Linked DNA regions of Homo sapiens. The protein of the gene in region 2 interacts with the protein of the main gene of each other region in a biochemical or structural test. Each region holds a gene or a part of one and is shown on either strand. Other genes may lie near its edges.

Region 1 (9,208 bases), on a different chromosome or scaffold from region 2:
GCTCTGCTACTTGGTAAATGACCTTTAACAAGTTTTTAAATTTCTCTAAGCCTCAACTTCCCCATCTGTAAAATGGGAATAATAATAGTATCTACTAATAAAGTTGTGAAGATTAAAGGTAAAGCCCTCAGAATAGCGCCTGGTTCATAGCATGCACTCTATAAGTATTAACTATTATTATTAGCTTACTTAGCCATTTTTTCATGTTTAATATATAAAAACTCATAATAATATTTATGAAATTTCAAAGTTATCATGCACAATCCATAGAAAAAGATACCACTAACTAATGTTGGACATCTTCAGTCTAGAGAAACTATTGATTTTAGTTACCAGAAGCCAAGAAGTCAAGATAGCAAAAACAATAAAAAGCTAAATATTAGACCTATTCTTGCTCCAAGAAAGCACTGCGGATTTCTTAAAAGGTATTAAAGACACTCTTAAGCCTGATTAAAACTGAATTTCATGTGAGAAGAAAGGAAAAATATTCCCAAATATGAGAAAAATTTTAGTTCAGGTACAGAAACTAATTTACCAAAGTTTACAAATCTTCTTAGTTGACAAATTTCATAGGCAATATTTTTCCAATATAATGCTCATGTTGTGAAGTATAACTTAAGGGTCCTGATAATTCTATATATACTCATGTGATCAGGTTTGAAATTATTATAAAATGACATTATTCAGGTAATCCACAATAATATTTGGTCAACCTTCTGTTTTAAAATGATTTATCCCAAAACAGAATATAATTTGTAGAATTAACACTGTAGTGAAAAAAAGAATTGGACAGAGTTTTGTTGTTTATTGTGCTTTCAAGAAAATTTCTAGTATACTGTAGAGTTGGCCCTCTGTATCTCTGTGTCCTACATCTGTGGATTAAACCAACCATGGATCAACAATATTTGGAAGAAAAAATTCACAAAGTTCCAAATAAGCAAAACTTGAATATTCTTCACAGCAAGTACTATGTTGAATCCACATGAATGAAATGATGTGTAGGCACTGTATTAGGTGTTATAAGTAATTGAAAGATACTTTAAAGTATATGGGAAGATGTGTGTATGTTATATGCAAATACTTATTTTTGGCAATACTTCATTCTTTACTCTTCTGCTCAGATTCCAATGTTCTTGGGAAATCTTAATTTGTCCCTCAAGGTGAAATGCCTGGGAGAGAAACAGCTTTTCCTCTCACCAATGACCAGGTTTAGTAAATCTCAAATTTAGTAGTGTCACCTTTCCTCCAAATATCAAAGCAATCTCAGGACTGATTACTGTCCTTGCTATCCCTCTATACAATGACAATTTAATTTGCAGTAATGTTAACTATGTATTTGGAATAAAAAGTTTAACTAGAAATGTTCTAAGTCTGCAGTGAAAGATGGACACGCTTTCTTCCCATCATCAAGAGGTGGGGAAGGAGGAAGTCAAAATTTCCTACTCTTCAATTCAACAGGCTTGTGATTGATTTAACTAGTAGATTCTAACAGAGGTGATGCTATGTGACTTCTGAAGGTAGGTCCTAAAAGGCTACGCATCTTCCACCTTGCTCACTGGAACACCTGCTCTTGGAGCCATGAACTACCATGTAAAAAGCCACTCTGAAGCCACCATGCTGTGAGGAAGCCCAGGCTGCACACAGAGGTCACATGTATGTACCCCAGCCAGCCCGCAGAGGCTTCTCAGACCACATCCTCAAAGTCTGCCCATTGTGATGGCCATGCCTCTCCTTGGTTCCTGTTGTGAGTTCTCAGGAGCCCCACCTTCTGTGGACTCACCCATCTGAGCACCCTGTTCCTGAGGCCTCAGCTGCTGCTCAGACACCAGACATGTGAGTGGAGAAGCCCCCAGCTGATTATAGCCCTGTCATTTATCTCCAGATGAGTTCCCAGACACGGAGAAGCAGAGAAAAATCATGATTGCCATGCCCTTTCCTAATTCCTGACCTAAGAATCCAAGAGCATAATAAAATGATTATGAAATTATTATAAAATAACTATGAAGTGTTTTATGCCACTAAGTTTCAGAGTAGTTTGCTATTCAAGATTGATAACCTAAACAAAGCTTACCAACTATTTGAGAAAATATCTTCCCCACTGATCGTATTTAGAAATCTAGTTTTAAAAACTACTTTACATTTTCATTCATCTTTAAAATCGCAAAATATCTTCCTTTCAACTAACAAATATTACTACTACTTCTTGTCTTTTCTTTCATCTTCTTTAGAATGGTACATTTGGTTCCATTTGGACTCCACTCTGTGAGTCCTTCAGGGATATAGCTATCATTAGAAAATTACCTCTTAAGATTTTTTTTCCTAAACAGGATAATTTTAGTTCTTTACGCCTTTCTTTGAGGTTCTTTTTTTAAATCACTTTAATTGATTTTATACCATGTAATCCCCTTATTCTATCATTTTCTAGGACTTCATGTCCCTTTTAGGTTGTGGAACACAGAAGCAAATATATTAACCAATAAACATCCTCCATCAATTCCTCCATCAATTTCCTAATAACTTTGTGAGGCTCAAATTTTTAACCAAGGTAAGAAAAAATTCTGCCCTTAGCACCAAAGGTCCTGTATCTGGCCTTCTATCATTATATATTTCAGGCCCTATTTTTGTAATAATATAAATTTGATAAGCAAGTTTTATTTAAACATCTATGTTAACAATGAAAATAGTCTTAGAAGTAATACCTAATAAATACCATTTATCAACATCCCATACTATCAATTAGATATTATTATTATCTACATATGAATATCACTGTTTAGTTAATTATCTCAAAAATGAAATTTAAAATGCATATTTTCCTGATTCAAGTTCCTGGATCATATGTATATGTATGCATGGGGAGTAGAAATGGGCATATCTCTTAATAGAAAGGGATGATGCCAGAAAAGTCAGATTCAACTTAGTTATCATATCATGTACCTCTCCACTTTTGAGTTTCACAATGAATTATAAATAAGAGGAATCAGGAAATATAGTATCTGATACTTTATTTTTAAATAGAAATCACTATTACTATAGAAGGGGCTATTTATAACCAGATCAATGAAAACCAACCTGTGACAGACAAAACACAAGATGGAAACTTCACTATAAAGTTTGTACCTACTACAAAGGATCTTACCTGTGTAGCAACTATTTAGCAAAAACATTAAATCAACATCCATGTTATAATTATAATCAATATTACTAAAAATAATAAAAACTACCATTTATTGCATACTTGCTTAATGCTAATACTTACTGTGCTAAACCCTTTTAGTATATATTCTTAATTAATTATTAAAACAAAAGCTCAAACAGATTCAATAACTATCCCAAGACACACAATTTTTAGGAAGCAGAACTAGGATCTTAACCCAGATGAGTTACTCCAAAGCCTTTGCCCTGAGCCACTAGACTACTGTAGAGAAAATAATTTAAATATATTACAGAAAGCCTCATACCTCTTTCTGGTTATATTTGATAGCAAGTTTTAGACGACTTAAATTCATTCTTTCTTCTAATAATCCCCGTTTGTCAAGAGGCTCGTCACTAGACGTATGGTTTAGAATAACTTCCAATTCACGAGAATTCCGGGCTTGTGCAAGTAAATCCTTAGCAAACATTTTACATTGCCGGGCTAGTTCCTCATAATCATTCCTATAAAATGCAGCATTCTATTATCAGAAACGTCGTTTCCATCTTCTAATTAAGCTATATTCACTAAAAACGTTTTTACTCAGCAACATTTTAATTCTGACAGTGTTACACAAAATCTGAAGTCATTTTCTGTGGATAATCAAAGGAAACTAGTGATGCACGAATTTTCCACAGCTTTGGGGAAAACCATAACACAATTATGTTCCCTGTGTTCATACTAATAATCTTAGATGAGCACAGTGTTCATTTATATATACTGATGTTATTCCTAAAAATTCTAATAATATTTGTCAACCAGTTCTTCGCTTAACTCATTTTCCCTTATTCTCTGTAAGCTTGGCTAAAACTTCCTTTTATATTACTCACCTTAACAATAGACATAATATCTTAATGCTATCCAATCATTATCATAAAATTTTTAACTAGAGCTTTTTCAATAGTCATCTACAATATGTTTATGTTACTTCTAATATTAAAATAGCATTTTGATTCATATTTAAAGTGCTCATTTGAGTGAAATTCAAATTAGAAAGAAAGATATTAAAATGCGCCTAACAAAAACCTCTCTTTCAGAATCCCTATTCCTTGAATCTTGGGTTTGAACTGCTTATTAAAGGCAGGCCTAAACTAATTTGTGAGAAATGAAGAAGTTTTAGTATATAATTCTTTTAAAAAATATCAATTACGGCTGGGTGCGGTGGCTCAGGCCTGTAATGCCAGCACTTTGGGAGGCCAAGGCGGGTGATCACCTGAGGTCAGGAGTTCAAGACCAGCCTGGCCAACATGGCAAAACCCTGTCTCTACTAAAAAATACAAAAATTAGTCAGGCATGGTGGCAGGTGCCTGTAATCCCAGCTACTCAGGAGGCTGAGGCAGGGAGAATTGCTTGAACCCAGGAGGGGAGGTTGCAGTGAGCCAAAATGGTGCCACTGCCCTCCAGCCTGGGTCTCCAAAAAAAAAAAAAAAAAAAAATCAATTACATTAACTTTATGTCTAAGCTTAATCATAACTTAAGAATGAAGTCAGAAATAAATAATTATGAGTCATAGTCTTGAGGTTGGGCTTCAGAAAATAATGTTTTTATTCAGTTTTTTCCCAAACTGAAAGGAAGGGGAAACAGGAAGATTTCCCACTGGTTAGTCTTTCTATATAATGGGGCTTTCCAGGAACTGGCTATATAAAAATCATAACTTAAGAATAAAAACTTCTTTGCCTTAATTTCTCTCATCATTCTTTATACATTCTATGTAGTCAAAACTCCTGAAAATAAGTAATTGGATTTATTTAACAAATGCGGCACTCCCTGCTTCTTGATTTAGGAATCTAACTGCAGACTGGAATGTTTATCAGAAGTATATATTATTACAAAAATATTCCATCTTTGGATAAACATTTGATGGACTACGAGATTCAAAGGTGAAATTTATACATCTTATTAATCTAATTCATTTCTAATAGATTACTGAAGACAAATAAGTGGCTGTATAGTTTAGATGGAAATATAGAAAACCAGAAGCAAGGAGTCATATATTCTAGTTATAACTTTGCTCCTACTTTTAGTTTTAACTCTATTCCTAATTAGATGCTGCTATTAGTAAAAATCTAGCCTTTATAAATCTCCTCCCCTGTCTATAAAACACTGGATTGAAGTAAATGGGTTTCTATGATCGCTTCCAAATCTAACTTTATTATTTTATGATTATATAATCATAGCAGTTTCTTCAAATCCTGTTTGAAAGGAGTTGAGTAAGTTTTATTTTATATAACTCAGACTCAAATTATGAGGTTACAATAGGAAGTTTTTCATATTTAAACAGAATAATTTAACAGCCTCATGTGCTAATAAAGTTAAAAGTAGCAACAAGTTACATTTGAACCATGTTTTGTGTGTTCATCAAAGTAAAGTACATACTTCATGTCATATCAAGTTTAAACAAAATTTAAATTATCCAAGTTACAAGACAGTAGTTCCAAACTTGAAAATATAAACAGGTCTTTTTTCAGTTTCTGGAACTCAGGTCTATGAAGAACACATTAAGTACTGCTGTTAAAGCTAAAGAAAACTCCAAGTTTCTTACTGCCCTTCCAGGAAGTAGAAATTTGAACTTTCCCAATTTTGTCAAGTCACTGAAAGAGTGTCACACAAGACATGGGGCTCTAATAGCAGCCGTATAGGAAAGAAAAGGTAGGAATAGTTATAGATCCCCAGTAGAAACCTTGCAACAGGGGCTAGTAAAAAATCGTAATCAATTCCTCCTTCTTTAGAGGGCAACAGGGATACTTTTCCATAAAGGAAAATCTCAACGCTTTCTCTCAACTCTACTATTAATAAAAGTAGTTTTCTAAGGATTTTTTTAAAAACAATATTTAAATTAGTAGTTTCATAGGCTGCTATTACAAAGTCTTTTTTTTTTTCAACTTACCCCCCTAAAGGAAAATAATAGGAGTGCTTCTTTGGTATGCCAAGTGCCAAAATTACATTTAATCTTCATTTCAGAAGAGAACTCAGACTGGGTGTTCATCCCTCTTAATTAGTTGTATTTTATTTTTATGTTTACATGTATTACATATATTATTTCTCTTACCAGAAAATCTGAGCAAATAGTGAAAAGGGACTATGTCTGTGTGTGGAATGTCCTTGACATACAGAAAGCATTCCATATGCTTTTGAAAGATCTGAAGGATCATTACTCAAGGATGATTATAGAGTCAGAGAATGAGGAGATATGTGTGAGAGAGAGAGCAACTATGAATAAATTTGCTCCTGCTTTAGGCTATAATCCTACTGTATTTCATACTGCTCTACAATGCCTTTGGTTAGGTTGAAAAGTGGGGAAGAGATTAAAGGTGTTTATAGGGTGGCAGAGGGCAGATGGGGAAGGAATGACTTAAGTAGCACCAGGGTCTGTTCCTTTGAGGGAGAGCAGGGGTCTGTTGCCAAGTAAGTGGCAACAAGGTGTAGTGTTCTTGGATCAAATGTAAATATATACAAATTATAATTTGGGTAATGAAGAAACTGAGGTTGAAGATTTAAAACAAAATACATTATATAATTTGCATTCATTCCCACCTGAATTCCACCTCCACAAGACTTAGTTCTTTTAAATCAGCACTAAGTTCAAATGCTCTCAGAATTGGATCCTCCTCTGTTAACATTATTAGAGCTGGACTGGCCAAACATCGATATATATCAAGACGAAACCTGTGATAAAATTGGATTCCATAATGTAAAATAAACTTATACACATATAATTCGTATTTTAATCTATAATTTTCATAAATGTATACTTAAAATATTATAAAATTAAAAGAAAAACTACAGATATATTTATTACAAGATAACCTCCATAAAAAGACTTAAAACAAATATTTTGAGATATAAATATTGAAAAACCTTGCTATCTATTGCTTTTTAGAAAATTTTTTTACTGTCTCTTTTCATAGATTCAAAATGCCTTTGGTATAATATAAAGATTTTTGTTTAATCCAGTTTAATTAAATTCATATTTCTGGACCAACTTTTTTTTAACTTAAAAGACAGGGTCTCGCTCTGTCACCCAGGCCAGAGTGCAGTGGAGTGATCACAGCTTGCCTTAGTCTCGAACACCTGGGCCAAGGGATCCTCCCACTTCAGCCTTGTGATTACAGGTGCATGCCACTACACCAGGCTAATTTTTAAAATTTTTATAGAGACAGGGTCATGCTATGTGGCCCAGCTAGTCTTAAGCTCCTGGCCTCAAGTTATCCTCCCATCTTGGCCTCCCAAAGTGCTGGGATTACAGGTGTGAGCCACTGTGCCTGGTTTGAACCCAACATAATTTTAAATAAAATATGCTAATAACATAAATTTTTAATATGATGTGGATTTGATGACTAATAAATCTTTTCTTTCTCTCTCAGTAATAAAAATACTTTTTTTTTCTTTTTTTTTTGAGATGGAGTCTCACTCTGTCACCAGACCGGAGTGCAATGGCACGATCTCGGCTCACCGCAACCTCCGACTCCCTGGTTCAAGTGATTCTCCTGCCTCAGCCTCCCAAGTAGCTGGGATTACAGGCATGTGCCACCACGCCTGGCTAATTTTTGTATTTTTAGTAGAGACGGGGTTTCACCATGTTGGCCAGGATCGTCTCGATCTCCTGACCTTGTGATCCAGCCACCTCGGCCTCCCAAAGTGCTGGGATTACAGGCGTGAGCCACCGCGCCCAGACCATAAAAATATTTTAATATGCTCAATATATATAATACATTTTTCATTCATTCAGGTTATGAGTTTGAAAGATGTTTCAAATCTTAAGAGTGAAATCATTTACTTATGCACAGTCTGTAATGTAAAAAAGCACTCCCTTTGCCATCTATAAATTAATATTCAAATTTCCATACCTAAATAGAAAACAAACCAGAAAAATTTGCTATAGTTCATTTATTAATATAATTCTTAATTTACAAATTTAGTAGATATTATATTTTTCTTTTAATATAAATTTAAATACATGCTTATTATAAAACATAAGGTAAGCAATTTGGAAACATGATACTCCCTCATCCATGTCCTCCCATCACCTCCCAACTGCAATCCTCAAAACTCGTCATTTTACAGAGAATTGTGCATGTCCTCCCTGATATTTTCTACTCACACACGAACATAATCAGACATAATAAAGGAACAGCTTGCTTTTTAAAAAGTGTAACATATCATGAATCTCTTTCTGTGTTACCATATACAGATTCATCTCATACAACTGGACGGAGGTCTATAAGCTCTCCATTAATGAACATTTAGGTGGCTTCTAATTTTTTTCTGCTATAAAAAATGCAGCAATGAATATTCTTCAGTTTGCATATCTTTTGTGTACTTTCAATTTCTAGGGAATATGGCATTTGTATTTTAAATTCTGATAGATGTTTCCAAAGCAATAATAACAAGGAGAGCTCATTTTCTCCATCAGCTTCATTAATACTGGGTATTACTATTTCAATCTAACAGAAAATAGGATTTTATAGGTGGTTTAAAATGAATTTCTTTAGATGCCTGAGCATCTTTTCATGTTTAATATTCATTTATACTTCTTCCTCTGTAACTTGCCTGTTCATATTCTTTGGCCCATTTTTTGTAATGATTATTTATCCTGCTTTTAGTCAATTTGTAAGATTTCTACATATCAAAGAAATTAGCCTACTGTCCAATCAAAAGTGATTCAAATACTTTTTTTTTTTGAGACACTCTCATTCAGTTAACCAGGCTGGAGTGCAGCAGCGCAACTTTTGCTCACTGCAGCCTCCGCCTCCTGGGTTCAAGCAATGCTCCTGCCTCAGCCTCCTAAGTAGCTGGGATTACAGGTGCGTGCCACCACACCTGGCTAATTTTTGTATTTTTAGTAAAGACGGGGTTTTGCCATATTGCCCAGGCTGGTCTTGAACTCCTAGGCTCAAGTGATCCACCCACCTCGGCCTCCCAAAGTGCTGGGATTACAGGCGACTTAAATACTTTTAATCCAGTTTGTTGTTTATCTTTCTACTTTGTTGTAATGAATTTTTCTATACGGAAATT
Region 2 (4,949 bases):
TTGGCCAAGCGGGGCCTCAGCTGCAGTTGGCTTCAGCACTGTGGGCAGGTTCTGTAGGTGGCCACAAGTCAGAGGCCCTGCTGGCTGAGGACACACACAGGGTCACCTCATTATTCCATGGAACCTTGGCTCTTACTGATATTGAGCATCCTTCTCTCTGGAACCGTGAGGGACAGGGCTGGGCCCACAGCGGCCCTGGTGGGTACAAAGTGGAAGTGGGTTCTTAACCTCGTCTGTGTCTAGACTCCTCAGGATGTTCTGAAATGCATAAAATAAAATCGACAGGACTGCCGTAGAAACCAGTTATGCCGAAATGCAGTTCTGGGTAGGCAAATCTCAGGGGAGGACCCTTGAGACAGGATGTCACTCAGCGTATCTCCTGAGAGCCTGAGAGGCCAGGCCAGCAGGGAGGGGCTCTTGTTCCTGTCTTCTGCCAGTGTGTCCTGTTAATCCCCACAGCCCCCGGGGGAGTGCAGGAAACACATCCCTTTTTAACGGACTAGATTTCTATTAATTTATTTAAGGCAATTAACATATTAGTTCTCAGGCCAAAGGATTTGTAAAACATTACACCAAAAGGAGAAAAACAAGCGGTCATGAAACAGCCACGCAAGCGCAGCTCAGCCCTTGTTGCCTGGGCGTACAACTCTTCCCCAGGAAGCCTGGGAAGAGGCAGGTCCTGGGAGCAAGATCGTCCATCATGGAGTCACCAGGCCACCTGGAGCCATGCCGGGGGTGGCATGGACACGACAGTGAGGTCTGCACTGGCTACAGCAGATCTGAGGCACGGAGGGAGCTGCACAGCCATGGGCAGGGCTGAGCACAGCACCCTTGAAATAAGTTAAATAACAAAGCCCTAAAATCACTAGTAACAGCATAACTGCCACCTCCCCCAGAGGCCGGCAGCCGCCAAAATGTAGTGCTTGGAGTTAAAGGGGTGACCCCACTCTTAACTACCCACAAGGAGGACTACAAAGAGTTGTCAGTTATTGCTTTAAGGAACAAAGGTCTCTAGGTAGGATTTATCTTCTGCTAAGGCATTAAGGTAAACTGAGTCCCAGTGAACTTTCAAGTCTTTTTAAGGGCTCTAAGCAGGACTGTCAGCTCTGAGGCTCCCCCTCCATGCTCTTCAAAGCCTGGGTGGGTGTCAGGGTGTCTGGCAGAGTGGGAGTGGAGGCTGGCCAGCTGGCTGGGCCACCCAACCCGAGGGAGGGGGCAGTGTTCTTCCCAGTCGCAGTCTCCAGTGATGAGCATCCCCTGTTGGGGCCTTCGGTGGCTCTCCTCAGCGGCTAATGCAGTTCTGGACATCCACAAAGCCTAGGCGTTGCCTGCGTTTCCGCTGCTCCGTCATCTAGGGTTAAGCAGATGCCAACAGGCCTGGTCAGGCCGCCTGGCACCTTCCCTCCATGGGTGCTGTGGAAGAGCTTGGCACCCGTCTTCCCCTGTGGGCCCAGCTGCTATTCGGCACTGGCGGCGGGCCAGGGCCCCTCGGGGTGCTTTAAGGATGTCGATGTCAGCACCAAACCCTTGTTCTCAATTAGCGTGTCACAAACCCTGGATTTGATGCAGCTGGGAAACCAGCCCACTAACAGAGGCTGCCTCATCTTCATGCAGGCACTGCCAGATGCAGAAGAGGATGTCTAGGCAAGAGGGCCTTAAACTCCCCCATCTCCAGTGATGGGGATCCCCTCAAAGGACCTACCTGGCAGCTGTCAGAGGAAGGGGATGAGAGACAGAGGGCCCCACCACCCTGTACTAAAGTTTCCACTTGGCCTTGTCTTTAGCGGCCCAAGGCAGGGGTTGTCAACCCCAGTCTGACTTGCCATGCAGGGGAGAGTGGGTTTGGCACCTGCCTTCTCATCCAGGCCCAGGGCCAGAGGCCAGTGGGGAAGAGGGTGGGTCAGGAAGGATGAAGGCAGGCAGGGACTGCCCAGGGATAGAACCCAGGGTGGGCCTGGGATCAGGCGGGGTGCACACCTGCTCCTTGAGCTCGTTGAGCTGGGCAGTGAGGTGGGACACCAGCTTCATGGTGGAGTTGAGCTTGTCCTGGAGAATCCGAATCTCATTCTGCTCCCCCTCGCCCTCATTGCTGACAAGGGACATGGCCCGCATCCGGGGGAACCAGTCCAGGTTCTTGTTCTGAAAAACATCACCAGTGGGTTAAGCAGGCGTGGGCCCGGCCTAGAAAGGCCTCATTTAGAAAAACAGTAATGTGGGGGGAGGCTTCTGCCACACCCTTAACAAAACTACTCGTCAGGGATGTGTCATGGGAAAATCTGAATTGACCTGGTCCTCCCCGGGGCCAGAGTGAGCTGGCAGTCAACCCTCTTGTCAACCCTCTGCCACCGAGACAGGCTGACTTCCGTTAGGCAGCGTCGGCAGCTGAGTTTGAGTCCTTTGCTGGTATCAGCACCATCTGTTTACTCTCATAACACCCCCTGAGAGGTGGAGGAAGGCCTCTGCACCCAGACAGACCCTGGATCTCCTTCCTTCCTTCCTCCCGCCCGCCTGCCTGACAAGCACGCCCCACGCCCCGGGAAGACGCGAGTCAGACAGATGGCAAATTGAGGGATCAGGAGGCTCCGCTGAGGAGAGCTGGCATCTGACACGTGTCTGGGAGGCAAAGCCACGTTTCCCAGGACAGAGGAGTCGGGGGGGGAGGGGGCACCAAGCAATTCTCAGCTTCCTTGTAGTAAGCTGTGAATTCTCAGACCAACAGATAAACCTGTACACAAAGATCAGTTTGAAATACAGACTAAACGATAAATAATTCCTTCTTTATGATTCATTGCCTTCACTCCATTATTACAGAAATTGGACAGATGACATTTGATTTCTGTAAGTGATTTTTAAAGTTTTTCCAGGCTCCCCTTCAGCCCAGGATCATCTAATTCAGACTTTTTAGGAAGCAGCCTGCCTTCCCACCGAGCTAGAAAACACTCCCTGAGAGCGGCCCACAGATCACTGGCCACGGGCAGGGTCTCCCCAACTCCACCCCTCCTCAGCATCACTGCACGACAGGCCCAGGGATACCACACGTGTTCTTCGGGGCGCATGGGTTTGCTGTGGGATTTTTCCTGACACCCAGAAGTGTGAGGAGGCCCCTCTGCAGCAGCGGCTTCCGTGCAGCCCAGAGCTGCTTCCAGCTGCTGCTCCTCGCCCTGCTGACCTTTCAACAAGTGTCTGCAGCTGTCCGAGCCCCTCTGCCTGGCCTCCTAGGGCCAACAGTCAGATAGGGCCACTCCTCTCCAGGGCCCAGGGTACTCAGAAGCTAAAACCATGAGGCCTCTGGTGCACAGTGATGACTCTAGAATGGCTGGTTTGGGCCCACAGGCCTGGCACAGCCCCTGCTCACACCTTGATCATCTGGGCCACGTAGCTCTCAGGGCCCGTGTAGTCGGTCTTGTTCTTCACGCGGACCAGCACAATGAAGTACAAGTAGTTCCACATGTTGTGCTCCAGCTTGATGTGTTCCTCAAATGACACTGTCTTGTTATCAAACTTGTCCCTCTCCAGACCTGAGGGTGCAGAGGGCGGGAATGAAACCATCAGCCTTCAAGAGCCACTGCAGGGTCACCTGCTGGAGGGGACCCAGCTTCCGGGGGTTGGAGGCATTTGTTCTCGGGATGAGCGCTTCCAACAGCTCGCTCTGGGCTATTTGGGTCACTTCTATTTAAAGCAGCAGCCACTTAGTGGAGATCCTGCCCTGCCGCAGCTGCAGCCCTCCCGCAGCAGCAACCGAGGACTCCAGGAGTAAACGCGAGAATTTCTCGAACTCAGGGGAAGCCCGAATGGCTGAATGAGCGAGGTCCTACAGGCCATACAGGTGACACCTGCCTGAGCCCGAGGTGGCTGGTGAGGGGACTAGCACTTCATTTCAGGGGTAGGAAAAGCACTGGACTGAGACCAGAAGCTCCAGACACTGACTGGGCTCATGTCCTCACCTAGAAACCCCAAGGGTTTACAGGGATGGGCCTGTCCCACTCCTTTCTGACTCCAAGTTCAGGCAGGGTCATGTTCTCCCCAGTTCTGGGATGAGCAAATGCATCAAGTCATCAGCTCCGGGCCAGGGTTCCCCAGGGCAGGAAGGGCCAAACCGCTACTGCCACTGGCATCAGATGACGTTCCAGCCCCGCTGCGGCCTCCACAGAGCAGGAAGCAGCCCTCACCACAGATGAAGCATGTCGTCTTAAGAATCTCCTCCTTCTTCTGCTTCTCACTACGCAGGTCAGCGAAGGTGTCGATGATTACCCCAAAGATGAGGTTCAGCACAATGATGATGACGATGAAGAAGAACAGGAGGTCATAGACCACTCGGGCTGGGAAGAGAGACTCCTGCAGGGGATGAGGCAGGGAGGCTGGGCCCGGTGGTCCCCACATTCACTGGGGCAAGATAGGACTCAGGTTGGGGCCAGGGCTGTGATATTGAGGACCCAGCCCCTAGCAGAAGGAAATGAGGGCCTCTGGCCTGGGGGCCATCAGATGGCAGAGTGGACCCAACCTGGCTCCACAGAGCAAGAATTGCAAGCAGAAGCCCTGAGTTTGGGTTAGGAAAGCGTGGACTCAGGACACGCCGGGGTGGAGGCCTGCAGAAGGAGTCTGGCGGGGAGGTAGGGCTACGAGTCTCGGTGTGTCTCTGCCCCTAACATTGATGAGGGAAAGAGGCAGCTCTGAACACCTCTGCCCACCCTCAGGACGCCTGGCCTCACACATTCCAGAAACCCTCTGTCTGGCCAGGGAGGCGGCCTCTCACTCCCAAGCAACAGGGGAAGGCCTGACATTCGGGAATGTGGCTGCCCAAGCCAAATCATGAGGCCTCCTGATAAAGCTGACTCAGCTCCGCCCTCTGCCCACCTGCTGTGGGCTAGGAAAGCCAGTGGTCACCATCCCTAGCCCTGGGGCAAAGTTTGGTTGCCAAAGTCTTTCCTTATGGAATGGGAGGGTGAGGG

Evidence for each region. The genes of interacting proteins can lie anywhere in the genome.
Region 1: the proteins of ITPR3 (region 2) and TRPC1 form a complex in vitro, tested with the Homo sapiens proteins (one study listed by BioGRID).

Annotation. Positions count from the first base shown.
Region 1 is NC_000003.12:142,775,283-142,784,490, reverse strand, and holds part of TRPC1 (short transient receptor potential channel 1), read right to left. Parts: intron 6,860-9,208; coding exon 6,728-6,859; intron 3,658-6,727; coding exon 3,462-3,657; intron 1-3,461. UniProt on the Homo sapiens protein: Forms a receptor-activated non-selective calcium permeant cation channel. Forms a heteromeric ion channel with TRPC4 or TRPC5 that has reduced calcium permeability compared to the homomeric TRPC4 or TRPC5 channel.
Region 2 is NC_000006.12:33,692,114-33,697,062, reverse strand, and holds the end of ITPR3 (inositol 1,4,5-trisphosphate-gated calcium channel ITPR3), read right to left. Parts: intron 4,336-4,949; coding exon 4,170-4,335; intron 3,519-4,169; coding exon 3,358-3,518; intron 2,140-3,357; coding exon 1,978-2,139; intron 1,352-1,977; coding exon 1,283-1,351; 3' UTR 501-1,282; downstream 1-500.